Linked DNA regions of Homo sapiens. The protein of the gene in region 2 purifies or fractionates together with the protein of the main gene of each other region. This does not show direct contact. Each region holds a gene or a part of one and is shown on either strand. Other genes may lie near its edges. The genes, in order: FOXP4 and DHDDS.

Region 1 (4,504 bases), on a different chromosome or scaffold from region 2:
TCATACTTCGAATAAGGTAATAATTGTGGGAGGGCTGCCCCATGTAGGATGTCAGATCAGGAAGAAAATAAATTACTGAGTCTATAAGCCCAATGCACCCAGAAGGTGGTGGTTCATAACAGCTCTTGTTTCTTATATTGCAAGACCCTCTCCTGTACCAGTGTCCAAAATAGATCATCACCCCACCTGCAAATGCACTGACCATTCACTATATCCCTGTGAGAGGAATAAAAAGAGGACTCTAGTTGAAGCAGGAGAAACTGAAGTTAGACCGCGGGAAGGACGGTCCTGAGAATAAAGCTAGGTGCAGTCTTGTCCCTCCAGAGTCTGGCATAGGAAGAATGCCCCCGGGGCTGGTCCACAGAACTGACTACTTCTTCAAGGGGGCAGAGTAAGGGGGCTGGGAGACTGGCAGCCAACACCTAAGGATTCTCTGGGGCATTCTGGTAGGTCCCAGCTGGGAGGGGAAGAAGGGGAAAGGGGAAGCGGCCGCAGCAAAATCATGGGTAATTGTTTTTATTGCATTGTAGAGAATGCCATTGTCCACAGATTACATGCAGCTAGGTTTACCGTACAAGGCCCTGGCAGCCTCCACGGAGGGCTGGGAGGGGCAGATTACAAAACACATCAGTGCTACTTTTTTAAACAGTATCTGGTGGGGAGACTCTGAGACCAAGCTGAGCTCCCCAGCCCCTCTCGAGGTACCATGGGGGACAGGGAATTCACCCCAGGCCCTACACAAGCGTCCAGAGGATTAGGGCTGTGGTGGAGCAGGCCTGCAGAGTGGATGAAGGTGAGACAGAGAAAGCGGGGCGAGTGAGCGACAGACAGAAATAGATGGACGAAAAGGACAAAAGACATGCCTGAGAGTAGAGAGAGGTCAGCAAAGACTCACCCTCCAGGTCCTTCTCCCAGCATTTGGCTGGAGAGTTCCAGCAGTTTGGTGATTTGTGGGAAGGGTGATTGACTCCAGTTCAGCTTTCTCAACACCCTCCCCTCCCCTGCTCCCCAAATACACTCTTCCCTGGGCCTTGTCCCTAGGGACAGGCCTGGGACTCCTTTCTGCCCTCAAGGAGGGAGTGTCCAGAAGGTGGCGTAAGACCAGTGAGAGCCGGGTGCAGTGGCTCACGCCTGTAATCCCAGCACTTTGGGAGGCTGAGGCTGGCGGATCACCTGAGGTCGGGAGTTCGAGATCAGCCTGACCAACATAGAGAAACCCCGTCTCTACTAAAAATACAAAAAAATTTAGCCCGGCGTGGTGGTGCACGCCTGTAATCCCAGCTACTTGGGAGGCTGAGGCAGGAGAATCACTTGAACCTGGGAGGCAAAGGTTGCAGTGAGCCGAGATAGCATCACTGCACTCCAGTCTGGGCAATAAGAGCGAAACTCCATCTTAAAAAAAATAAAAAATAAAGACCAATGAGACGGCTGAGGCCCTGGGGATGTGCACAGGGGTCTGAGGCGGCGGGAGGGGCTCTGTGTTGAGGAGGGGCAGCAGGTGGGGAACCAGGACTTAACACGGGATAAGAGGTGCAGGCTGGTGTGCTGGGGCTGGGGGAGGTGTCAGGGGCCATCTTTGGCTTAGCAGCTTGGCCCTTGGCCTCTTTCCTTGCAGCCTATCCAGGGTCCCCTTTGTATAGGTTGAATGATCCCGTTTCCGCCGTGAGCCCACTATGATGACCATGGTCACCACACAGTGTGCCACGTGGGTGTGCACGCACACTAATGGTCCTACTGCTTCAGGATGCCACCACCACACCTGGGCACTACACACACACACGCCTATCCAGGCAGCCCCCTTGAAGACGTGGACAATGGGCCTGGAAGGACACCTGGGAATGGGTGTGGATGTCTCCAGAGCTGGTGGCACAGGTAAAAGAACCCTGCGGCGGTGGTCCTCTCCATCCCTGCAGCAAATCAGCTGCCTTGCTCCAACACTCTGGCAAGAACTTGGATTTCAAACTAGTGAAAGAACTAGGGCAAAGGATTGGGACTCTGGAAGAAAACAGGAAAATGACAGAGAACCCTGTTTAAGCGTGGAAGGGACAGGAGGCACAGGGGAACCGGAGGTGGGTGGGCCCTGTCCACAGTGAGGGCACATGCCCAGCGCCCCTGCAGGGCTGCTCATTCCATCCACTCACAGAAACCACCACCACAGCGACCCTCACGTTGCTGCTGCTCTGCCCAGGCTCCCCGAGCAGAGCGATCTTTCAGCTTTAATGCTCCTCCCCTCCCGCACCTCGGTGACACACACAGGGCCCGGTGAATAGAGGACGTTTAATATTTCTGTGCTGGTCAAACGGAACACAGGTGGGGAATACATGGGGAGGGGGCGGAGGGCCCCCTGCCTCTCAGGAGGGGTGGCTTGTGAGGGGTGTATGTGGGGGGTTCTTGGGAAATATCCAAGGAGTCTTCTCAGTAAAGGGGCCAGGCCAGGGGTGTTATGAGCATCCGATACGCCCAGTCCTTGGCCTTGAGTTGGGGGTCCCCCATAGGGGGTCTGTGGAGAGTCTGACTTTTTTCCAGCTCTTTTGCTAGAATCCACACTCCCAGCACGACGGGTGACTTGGTCCTAGAGAGGGGTCTGGAGAGCCCCCAGGAAGCAGCCCAGGGTCAGGGAGAAGGGCTCCCGTGCCCACTCCTGAGGGGGTGAGAGCCCGCTTTCTCCCCTCCTTTCTCCTTCCCCCAGGCTGGGCAGGAGCGGAAGGGAGGGGGGCAGGGCCCTGCCTCCACTGAGCCCCAGGGTCCTCAGGGTGGATGGAGGAGGGGTGGAGAGAGAAGGTCTTGGCCACCAACAGACACTGTAAACTTTGGTTTAAAACAATAACTTAAGTGGAGGGAGGGCTTCCAGCCTGGGGCCGGGGTGGGAGACTGGGAGGGCAGGTGCTGGGGAGGCGACAAAGGAAAAAGCCAACAAAAAGTTTTGGTTTTTGCTTCCGGCATAAGAAAGGTCTTTGGTCATCCGTTTAACTGGTGGGGCGGCGGGGGGAGAGGCGGGCAAGGAAGGGGAGCTGAGGGTGACTGCAGAGGAAGGGGAGCTGAGGGAGGGTGAGAGGACTGCAGAGAGGCCTGCAGGCTGGATGTGGGTGTGGAGCCGGGGTCCAGCCTGGCCTTCCCCTGGGCTCCCGGCCCAGGCCCCGCCTCTGGCCTCAGGGAGAGCTTGGCTCCACCTGCAGAAGCGCACCTGGCACAGACCTCTGTGGGTGAGGCGGTACCAGGCCTCTTCCCATGGGGGCGGCTGGAGGAGCCCCCAGCAAACGGGGGTGGGGGTGGAGGCCTGGCTCAGCCTGGTTCTGTCTCAGGTTGGGGGCGGGTCTGGAGCCAGGTGGGCCTGCTCACACGGACCCCCACAGGGCACACAGACAGTCCCACCCCAGCAGCAGAGGGGGCTGTTTCTTCTGGGGATGGAGGCACAGTTCCTCCACCCAGGCCAGGGCAGGGTGGGAGCTGGGGTGGAGAGTTCTTTCTTCACAGTACGGAAAAGAAGGCGGAAGGGAGCACGAGTTAGGAAAGTGGGGGCCTCTGGCCAGAAAACACGGCCAGAGCCAGGTGCCAGGGGGCCCTGGGTTTGAGGGGTGGCTAAGCCCCGCCTGCGGGTCTCCATGATGCTGAGGGGCCCTGTGGGGAGAGCTGGTGGGGGAGGAGGGCCCTGCTGCTGCTGGTGGTTGGGGGGAGGCAGTTTCAGATGTGGGGAGGGTCTGAGGAGGGGTCTGAACCCTCCGTGTCCTCTACTGGTCCAAGACCAGGGGTTGTGTCCCTGGGGGTGGGGACCGTCCCTGCCCCTACGTGTTTTTGTCAGGTCACACTGGGAGCTGCTGGCCCGGGCCTCCCCGGTCTGAGTCCTGGACTTGCCTTGAGGCTCGGGAGGGGCTGTGGAGTTGGGGGAGATGGGGCCTGGATTCTGGAAGGGAGGGGTCTCACCCCAGCCCTGCCGGTCACTACAGGCCCTTAGGACAGTTCTTCTCCCGGCAGCTCCTCCTCCAGGTCCCTGTCTTCCGGAGGCCCCGAGGCGCTGGGGTTAGGGGCGCCCAGGGGAGGCCCGGGCTGCCTGTCTTCCTCTGCCTCTGCTGGCTCCTCCTTCACCTGCACCTGGTGGCTGAGGCAAAAGTATGGCATGGGCACCAGGCGGCTGTCCTCTGATGCCCTCTGCCCCCTGCCCCCCAAACTCACCCAGAACTCTGGGGCACAGTGGGGTGCCCACAGCCCCCTCCCCAGGATCCCATCAGACCTGAGGGCTGATCTCCCCTAGGGCTCTCTTCAAAGAAAAGCTGGTCCTGGGGCAGAGACTGCTCTGGGTTGGGGAGGAGAGAAGAGGGGAGCAGAGGGGAGATGAGCGAACGGAGGAAGGAGAAGAAAGATAGAAGAGAGGCCAGGCGAGGTGGCTCACACATGTAATCCCAGCATTTTGGGAGGGCGAGGCCAGTGGATCACCTGAAATCAGGAGGTCGAGACCAGCCTGGCCAGCACGGTGAAACCCCATTCTCTACTAAATACAAAATAATTA
Region 2 (7,519 bases):
GCACACACCTGTAGTCCCAGCTACTTGGAAGGCTGAAGTGGGAGGACTGCTTGGGCCCGGGAGGCACAGACTACAGTGGGCCGAGATCACACCACTGCACGCCAGCCTGGGCGATAGAGTGAGTCCCTGTCTCAAAATAAAAATAAAAATGGGCCAGGAGTGATGGCTCATGCCTGGAATCTCAGCACTTTGGGAGGCTGAGGCAGACAGATCACTTGAGGTTGGGAGTTCAAGACCAGCCTCGCCAACATGGTGAAACCCCGTCTCTACTAAAAAATACAAAAAATTAGCTGGGCACGGTGGTGGGCGCCTGTAATCCCAGCTACTTGGGAAGCTGAGGTGGAAGAATTGCTGGAACCTGGGAAGCGGAGGTTGCAGTGAGCCAAGATCTCGCCATTGCACTCCAGCCTGGAGACAGAGCGAGACTCCATCTCAAAAAAATAAATAAAATAAAAAATAAAAATAAATAAATAAAAATAAAATATTTGTTGAATGAATGAACTATGTGACAGAGAAATGTCACCCAGCTGTTAGGAAGGAGAGGCATTCATAAAATAGCCTCAAAAACTGTCTCCTCTCCTTTTTATCTAATTCTATTCTCACCAAGTAACTTTTTGATTTTTAATCTAGTTTCCTAGGTCAATCGAATCGGGAAGGGAACCAGAAAAATTCCTGCTTCCCAAGATCCCACATAATAGAGGTAAAGGATAAGAACCCTAAAATCAAACAGCTTTAGATATGAGTCCCAGCTCTGGCACTTACTAGTAGAGTGACCCTGGGCAAGTCACTTCAATGCTGAACTCAGTTTTCTCATCTACACAATGGACAACAGCCTTGAATCTCTCACACATAAGGTTAATGACTTAATGAAATACAGAACACAACACATCTCCTGGGTTATTTTTTGCTACTATTATTTTACTATTGCTGTTAGTTTACAAATATATTAAAAGTTACATAAATAATAACATGAGAGGGACCAAATATTTAAATGGCTTCAAAAGTCTCTCCACCTTTAATAATTAGGATTCCACTATGTTGACAATAATTAATAATTTTCTTTTTGAAAAATCCCTGAATCGGCTGGGCATGGTGACTCACGCCTGTAATCCCAGCACTTTGGGAGGCTGAGGCAGGCAGATCACGACGTCAGGAGTTCGAGACTAGCCTGGCCAATATGGTGAAACCTGTCTCGACTGAAAATACAAAAATTAGCTGGGCATGGTGGCATGCACCTGTAGTCCCAGCTGCTTGGGAGGCTGAGGCGGAAGAATTGCTTGAACCTGGGAGGTGGAGGTTGCAACTCCAGCCTGGGCAACAGAGTGAGACTTTGCCTCACCAAAAAAAAAAAAAAAAAAGAAAAGAAAAACACCTGAATCTTGTGTGGAACTAGAACATGAGAGACCTAAAGAACTCTAGCCCCAACAAACTGCATTCATGAAAAGTCATTCTTGGAAAAACACTACCAAAGGGCCAGGAGGGTATAATTTGTAAAGGAATAATAACATGGCTTTGTCATCTGCTTTGCTCTTTCTCTGGGGTTTCTTGGTGTGTGGTGAACTCTAGTTCTGAAGCAGGTTGTAATAAGCCAATCCTAATCTCTAAATTTGGGAGATCCCCTTAAATCTTTCCACATGCTCCCCTAATTAGACCTCTGGCCAAGTACATGGCACAGAGGGGCTTTATGGTTTGGTACAGGCCTGCTTTTTTGTTGTTGTTGTTGAAAAGAGGGAGTTTTGCCATGTTGGCCAGGCTGGTCTTGAACTCCTGGCCTGCCTCAAGTGGACTGCCCACCTCGGCCTCCTAATGTGCTAGGATTACAGGCGTGAGCTGCCATGCTGGCCCAGGCCTGTTTTCCTTAACAATTACCATGCAAAACAACTCGGGATACCTGGGATCCAACAGGCCTTGCTCCACCCCCCAGGCCATCTCTCTCACAGCATTGCTGATCTCATGACGGGATGTGTATGCAAAACAGACATTCAGGAAACACCTGAGGAGGGAAGAAGAGAATAATTTACCAAAGGGGGACAGGGACTGATGATTGAAGTCACTGATTACAGAGAAGCCCTTCCAGCCTTTCCCTAGAAAAACAAATACACATCAAATGTTAATTGTGGATACCTCTGAAAGGTGAAATTATGAGTTTTTTGTGGTTTCCAAGTTTTCTTGGAATAAACATGTAACTAGTTTTATAATAAGACAAATACTAAATGGCTCCTTTTTTTTTTGAGACAGAGTTTTGCTCTTGTCGCCCAGGCTGAAGTGCAATGGCGTGATCTCGACTCACTGCAACCTCTGCCTCCTGGGTTCAAGCGATTCTTCTGCCTCAGCCTCCCGAGTAGCTGGGATTACAGGTGCACACCACCACACCTGGCTAATTTTTGTATTTTTAGTAGAGATGGGGTTTCACCATGTTGGCCAGGCTAGTCTTGAACTCCTGACTTCAGGTGATCCACCTGCCTAGGATGACAGGCGTGAGCCACTGTGCCCAGCCACCAAATAGCTCCTATTGCCGTCCTAACCCTCTCCCCTTCTACTGTACACCGGCTTTCAGAGGAAGACTCTACTGTGATATTGGCACAAACAAAGGAAAATAGGAAGGAGATTTGATGTAAAACAAGTCCACTGCCAAAATACACGTTATATTTCAAAGCTACACATCACAGAGTTTGGATTATTGAACTCTATTCCCCTGTACATCTGTATGACCTCCCAAGGTCATCCTATCCATAGGTTAAAGGAGTGGAACAGAACAAGAATTTCTTGAAGGATCTGTCTTCAAAGTCAGGGATAAGAACTGCTGTATTCCGATCCCATTCCCTGTCAAGTAAAAACACACCCACACACACACACACACACACTTATTTGGTGGGGGCTGGGCAGAGAAAGGAGGAAAGAGAAACTATGTGTATGTGTCAGTATACACACATATAACATGTTATTGCAGAATCATGTCTGGTGTGCCCTGCAGACGGAGAAAGTCTCTAAGCTGCTCAACCTACTCTCTCATTGCCCCTTGCACCAATCCAGACCAAGGAAAGCCCAGGACGTCTCCCTAAAGCCAGCAGGGAATCAAAGATTGAAACAGCTCCCTATAGGGAAATCTGAGAACTTACTTGTTGTAGTTCTTCGTGGCCTGTACAGCTTGTGCAATCAGCTCCTGGAGATCCAAGGGCAACAAGTGCAGATCGCCCAGGACCCGGATACACACCCCATGCTTCTGCAGTTTCTCCCTGATCAGGGAAAAGAGGCAGCATTGGGATAGGGCCCCTGCTGAGCTGGAGAGAGCAAGGTGCTCAGGTAATAACTGACCACCAGTTTTTTGAGTGCTTTCCTGTGTGTCAGACCCTGTTCTACATGCATTATTTCATTGCATCCCTTCAACAACTCTGAAAGAAACTTACTTCAGTGCCAAGGCTCAGACAGGACAGTCAGATAGGGACTGCCCAGGGTCATATAGCCATCAAGTGCTTTGTCAGGATTGAAACCCAGTTTGTCTGATTTGAGAACCCAAATTCTTTTTCTTGAGATGGAGGCTTGCTCTGTCACCCAGGCTGGAGTGCAGTGGCGCAATCTCAGCTCACTGCAACCTCCGCATCCCGGGTTTAAGCGATCCTCCCACCGCAGCCTCCCAAGTAGCTGGGATTACAGGTGCCCACCACCAGGCCTGGCTAATTTTTATATTTTTAGTAGAGATGAGGTTTCACCATGTTGGCCAGGCTGGTCTCGAACCCTTGACCTCAAGTGATCTGCCTGTCTCGGCCTCCCAAGTGCTGAGATTACAGGCATGAGCCACTGCGCTCAGCCCCAAACTACATTTTTTTTTCCCCTTTTTTGGAGACAGGGTCTTACTCTCACCCAGGCTGGAGTGCAGTGGTATACTCATGGTTCAGTGTTAACTTCCAAATCCTGGGCTCAAGCGATCCTCCTGCCTCAGCCTCCCAAGTAGCTGGGACTAAAGGCATGCACCACCATGCCTGGCTAATTTTTGTATTTTTTGTAAAGATGAGGTCTCACTATGTTGCCCAAGGTGGTCTCAAACTCCTGGCCTCAAGTGATCCTCCTGCCTGAGCCTCCCAAAGTGCTAGGATTACAGGTGTGAGCCACCATGTCCAGCAAGAACCCAAACTCTTTACTATACATTACACGACCTCATGTGTCCTTTTTGGGCAGTTGCATTTTATGTATCTGTGAAGTTTGTCCCATTTGAGAAGTGAGTAAACTCCTCAAGGGAAGGAGCTGTATTATGGGGTACTTTTGTTATGTTCTAGTGAAATATTATGATAATGGTGACAGCTAACATTCTATGTTTACTAAATGCCAGATATTGGTCTAAGTGCTTTACATGTACCAACACATTCCATCCTTACACCAACCTCTGAGTTATATACCCTTATTATTCCCCTTTTACAGATGAGGAAACTGAGGCACAGGGACGTTAGGTAATTTGTTTGGACAGCTGATGGAGAACCAGGATTTGCACGTAGGGAGTCAGCCTCCAGAGCTTGTCTTCTTAATTATGACATTATATTGCTTCCATACAATAACTCCCAAACTCTGCATACAGTGAGAATGAATTCAGCCAGCTTCTCTCATCTGGAAATGCTATGAAGAAACCGAATGCTTCACATTTGGAAAATGGGAGATTAATTGAAGGCAGTATACTAGAAGACCTTGATTCAGCTCCTCCTGCTAGCTTGTGGTATAGTTCTGCCACTAGTTTGATGTGTGACCATGTGTAAGCTCTTGTCTTCTGTTTTTTAAAATTTTAATTTACTTATTTTTAATTATTTTTTCTGAGACAGGGTCTCGATCTGTTGCACAGGATGGAGCATAGTGGATCGATCACAGCTCATTGCAGCCTCAGACTCCCCAGGCTCATCACAGTGATCCCCCCACTTCAGCCTCCCACATAGCTGGGATTATAGGCATGTGCCACCATCCCCAGTTAATTTTTTTGTATTTTTTTGTAGAGATGGGGTTTTGCCATGTTGCCTAGGCTGGAATCAAGCAAATTCCTGGACTCAAGCAATGTACCCTCCTTGGCTTCCCAAAGTGCTGAGATTACAGGCATGAGCCACCTTGCTCAACCTCTTCTCTTTACTAGGGTTTAGTTTCCCAACTGATGAAACAGAATCAGGCCAGTGGTTTTCCCACCTTCTTTTAGCCAAAGAACCCTTTCTTCAAATCAAATTCTACACAGAAGCCCAACACATAAAATAGGTAAATGCAACTCAGCACCCCCTACCCCATTCCCACTAGGTTCTTTCTACACCTCCTCAGACCTTGGGGTTCTGTGGCACATTAATGGAAAAGCACCTCTGAGTTTCTTCTTGCTTTTGCCAGGACTTCATGATAAACGAAGACCATTTTCTCTACTACTAACTGATCAGCGCAATCTCATTAGCATCTCTTCTGCCATGCGTTTTGATCTTGCAGGAATTGTAATATGGTCTGTCTCTCAGAGCACAGTGTAGTAGATGATAGCTCAGCTCTGGAGTCAAAAAGATCCAGGTGTGCACCTTGGCTCTGCCTGTCTGATAGCTGTGTGACCCAGGATATATGCCTTAACTTCTTTGGTTAACTACTTTCCTTCTCTCTAAAAATTGGCTAATAATATCTTTGTCATGGTATAATGTGATTACAGGATGAGTAAGAATATATTTTAGGCTCAAAGCCTGGCATATAGTAAACACTTTAAAAAGGTAAGATTAGTGGGATATGCCCCCCATGCCTCCATCCCCGGCTCCTTAGGTGTAAACTCTGAGCCACACAGGCTCTGCTGGGGACCGGGGAGCAATGTCTGTAGCCCAGAGTCTCACCATCCTAATATAGACAGAAGGAAGCCTGGCTACCCTCCCTACCACCCATTGTTCTAGGCTCATCTTCACTGGAGTTCTAGGCTCACTGTTCTCTCATCTTCCTGGTACAGGTAGGAGCTGGGCACACAACAGTTGTAACTAAGACTTTCGGGCAATTCTGGCTGGTAAGGGCTCCATACTTTGAAGCAAGCAGTCTCCACTGAAATTTGTCTTTGCCCCTCTCTGGCTTTATTCCCTAAGTTAAGCCTAAACTTACTGACAGCTAAGAATGGTACTGATGCTTCCCCATAAATGTCTCTTATGCATCATCCTATCCCTCCCAAAAGACTATGCAGGGGGAGTACAGTAACTTTTTAGGGTTCACTGTGCAGCAGAAAATGACTTCCTCAATGTTTTCTTTAACTCCACTTCCTTGGCCATAGTTTATTGGCTCTGGGGTAGAAATCTGATAGAATTTAGGGATCCCAATTAAGGGATTTTATTGATTCCAGGCTGCTCTTTTGAAGCAAGAGAAAACTGGTCTGCAGAGAGAGGTGGAAATAAATGAATACAGAGGTTCTACCTAGTGGGTTTAATTCCTGGTTTCAGTTTTGCTTGAGGCTGGCTGTACTTGTTCTTAAATCATGTGACACCCCTCAATATCCTCAAATAAATGCCCCCTTTTTTATTAAAAAGTTAGAAATAAAGAATGAAAGACTATCTTGTATTTCTGATATTTGCCACCCAAGATATCTAACTAACATTAAAAAGAGTTGCAAGTCCCTTAAGTAAGCCTCAGATAACAGAATTTCAAGGGTTAGGATAAGGCTGGGGGTGGTGGAAGAACATGCTCTCCCCTCTGATAGCATCTTACTTTTCTTCCATCAAGCGGCTGAACTTCTGCCGGGCCAGATCCATAAGCCCGTCTACCTCACTCTTGGAGCGTTTGAAGTTCTCAATGCTGAATGCGTAGACTGTCACCTCTAGGATGCCCAGGTTCAAACACCACCGCAGAGTCTGAGAGGGGAGAAGGCAAGGAGCTAGGATACAAGGAAGAGTGGGAAGGGGAAATAAGAGATACTTTTTGGTCCTGACTCAGAGTTGGAGATAGGAGACAGACTTTTCTCCTCCCCAAAGCTGGGTGAAGCTAGGATAACATCAGTGTTTATGTCAGAATTAATGCATCAAATAAGCAGAAAACCACCATTGAAGAAACTGAAAAATGTGATCTTAGTGAATGCTGATGGCATTGTGCACTACAAGAAAGAACTCTGCACTGAGAGTGTAAAGACATAGGCTCTAGTCCCTGACTCCAGCATGCACTTATGTGACTGGAATCAAATCATTTAATTTCTCTAGGTTGAAGTCTCCTTACCTGTAATATGGGATCACAATCCATCCCTTACAAGGTGGCTAACGAACAATATAAAAACACAAGGTGTTATTACTCACAGCATAACTTCATTATTCTGGTAGGTTGAGAGGCTGAGTTAAAAGAAAAAAAGCAACAACTGGACAGCTGTGTAGCATTTAATAGCCTGCAAAGGGTTTTCACATAATTTCATTTGATTCTTTGAACAACCACTTTAAAATGACACTACTGTTTTCATGCCTACTTTACAAATGATAAAACAGGCTCAGAGTTGAAGAATATGTCAAAAATCCTCAACTGTCTGATTCCATTATATGGAGTTCTAGAATGGGAAAAACAAATT

Evidence for each region.
Region 1: the proteins of DHDDS (region 2) and FOXP4 purify together in Homo sapiens (affinity purification with mass spectrometry; 3 studies listed by BioGRID and IntAct, with this or other methods). This does not show direct contact.

Annotation. Positions count from the first base shown.
Region 1 is NC_000006.12:41,598,381-41,602,884, reverse strand, and holds the end of FOXP4 (forkhead box protein P4), read right to left. Parts: intron 4,163-4,504; exon of another isoform or gene 4,097-4,162; coding exon 3,949-4,096; 3' UTR 501-3,948; downstream 1-500. UniProt on the Homo sapiens protein: Transcriptional repressor that represses lung-specific expression.
Region 2 is NC_000001.11:26,442,033-26,449,551, reverse strand, and holds part of DHDDS (dehydrodolichyl diphosphate synthase complex subunit DHDDS), read right to left. Parts: intron 6,845-7,519; exon of another isoform or gene 6,822-6,844; coding exon 6,679-6,821; intron 3,237-6,678; coding exon 3,120-3,236; intron 1,994-3,119; coding exon 1,892-1,993; intron 1-1,891. UniProt on the Homo sapiens protein: With NUS1, forms the dehydrodolichyl diphosphate synthase (DDS) complex, an essential component of the dolichol monophosphate (Dol-P) biosynthetic machinery.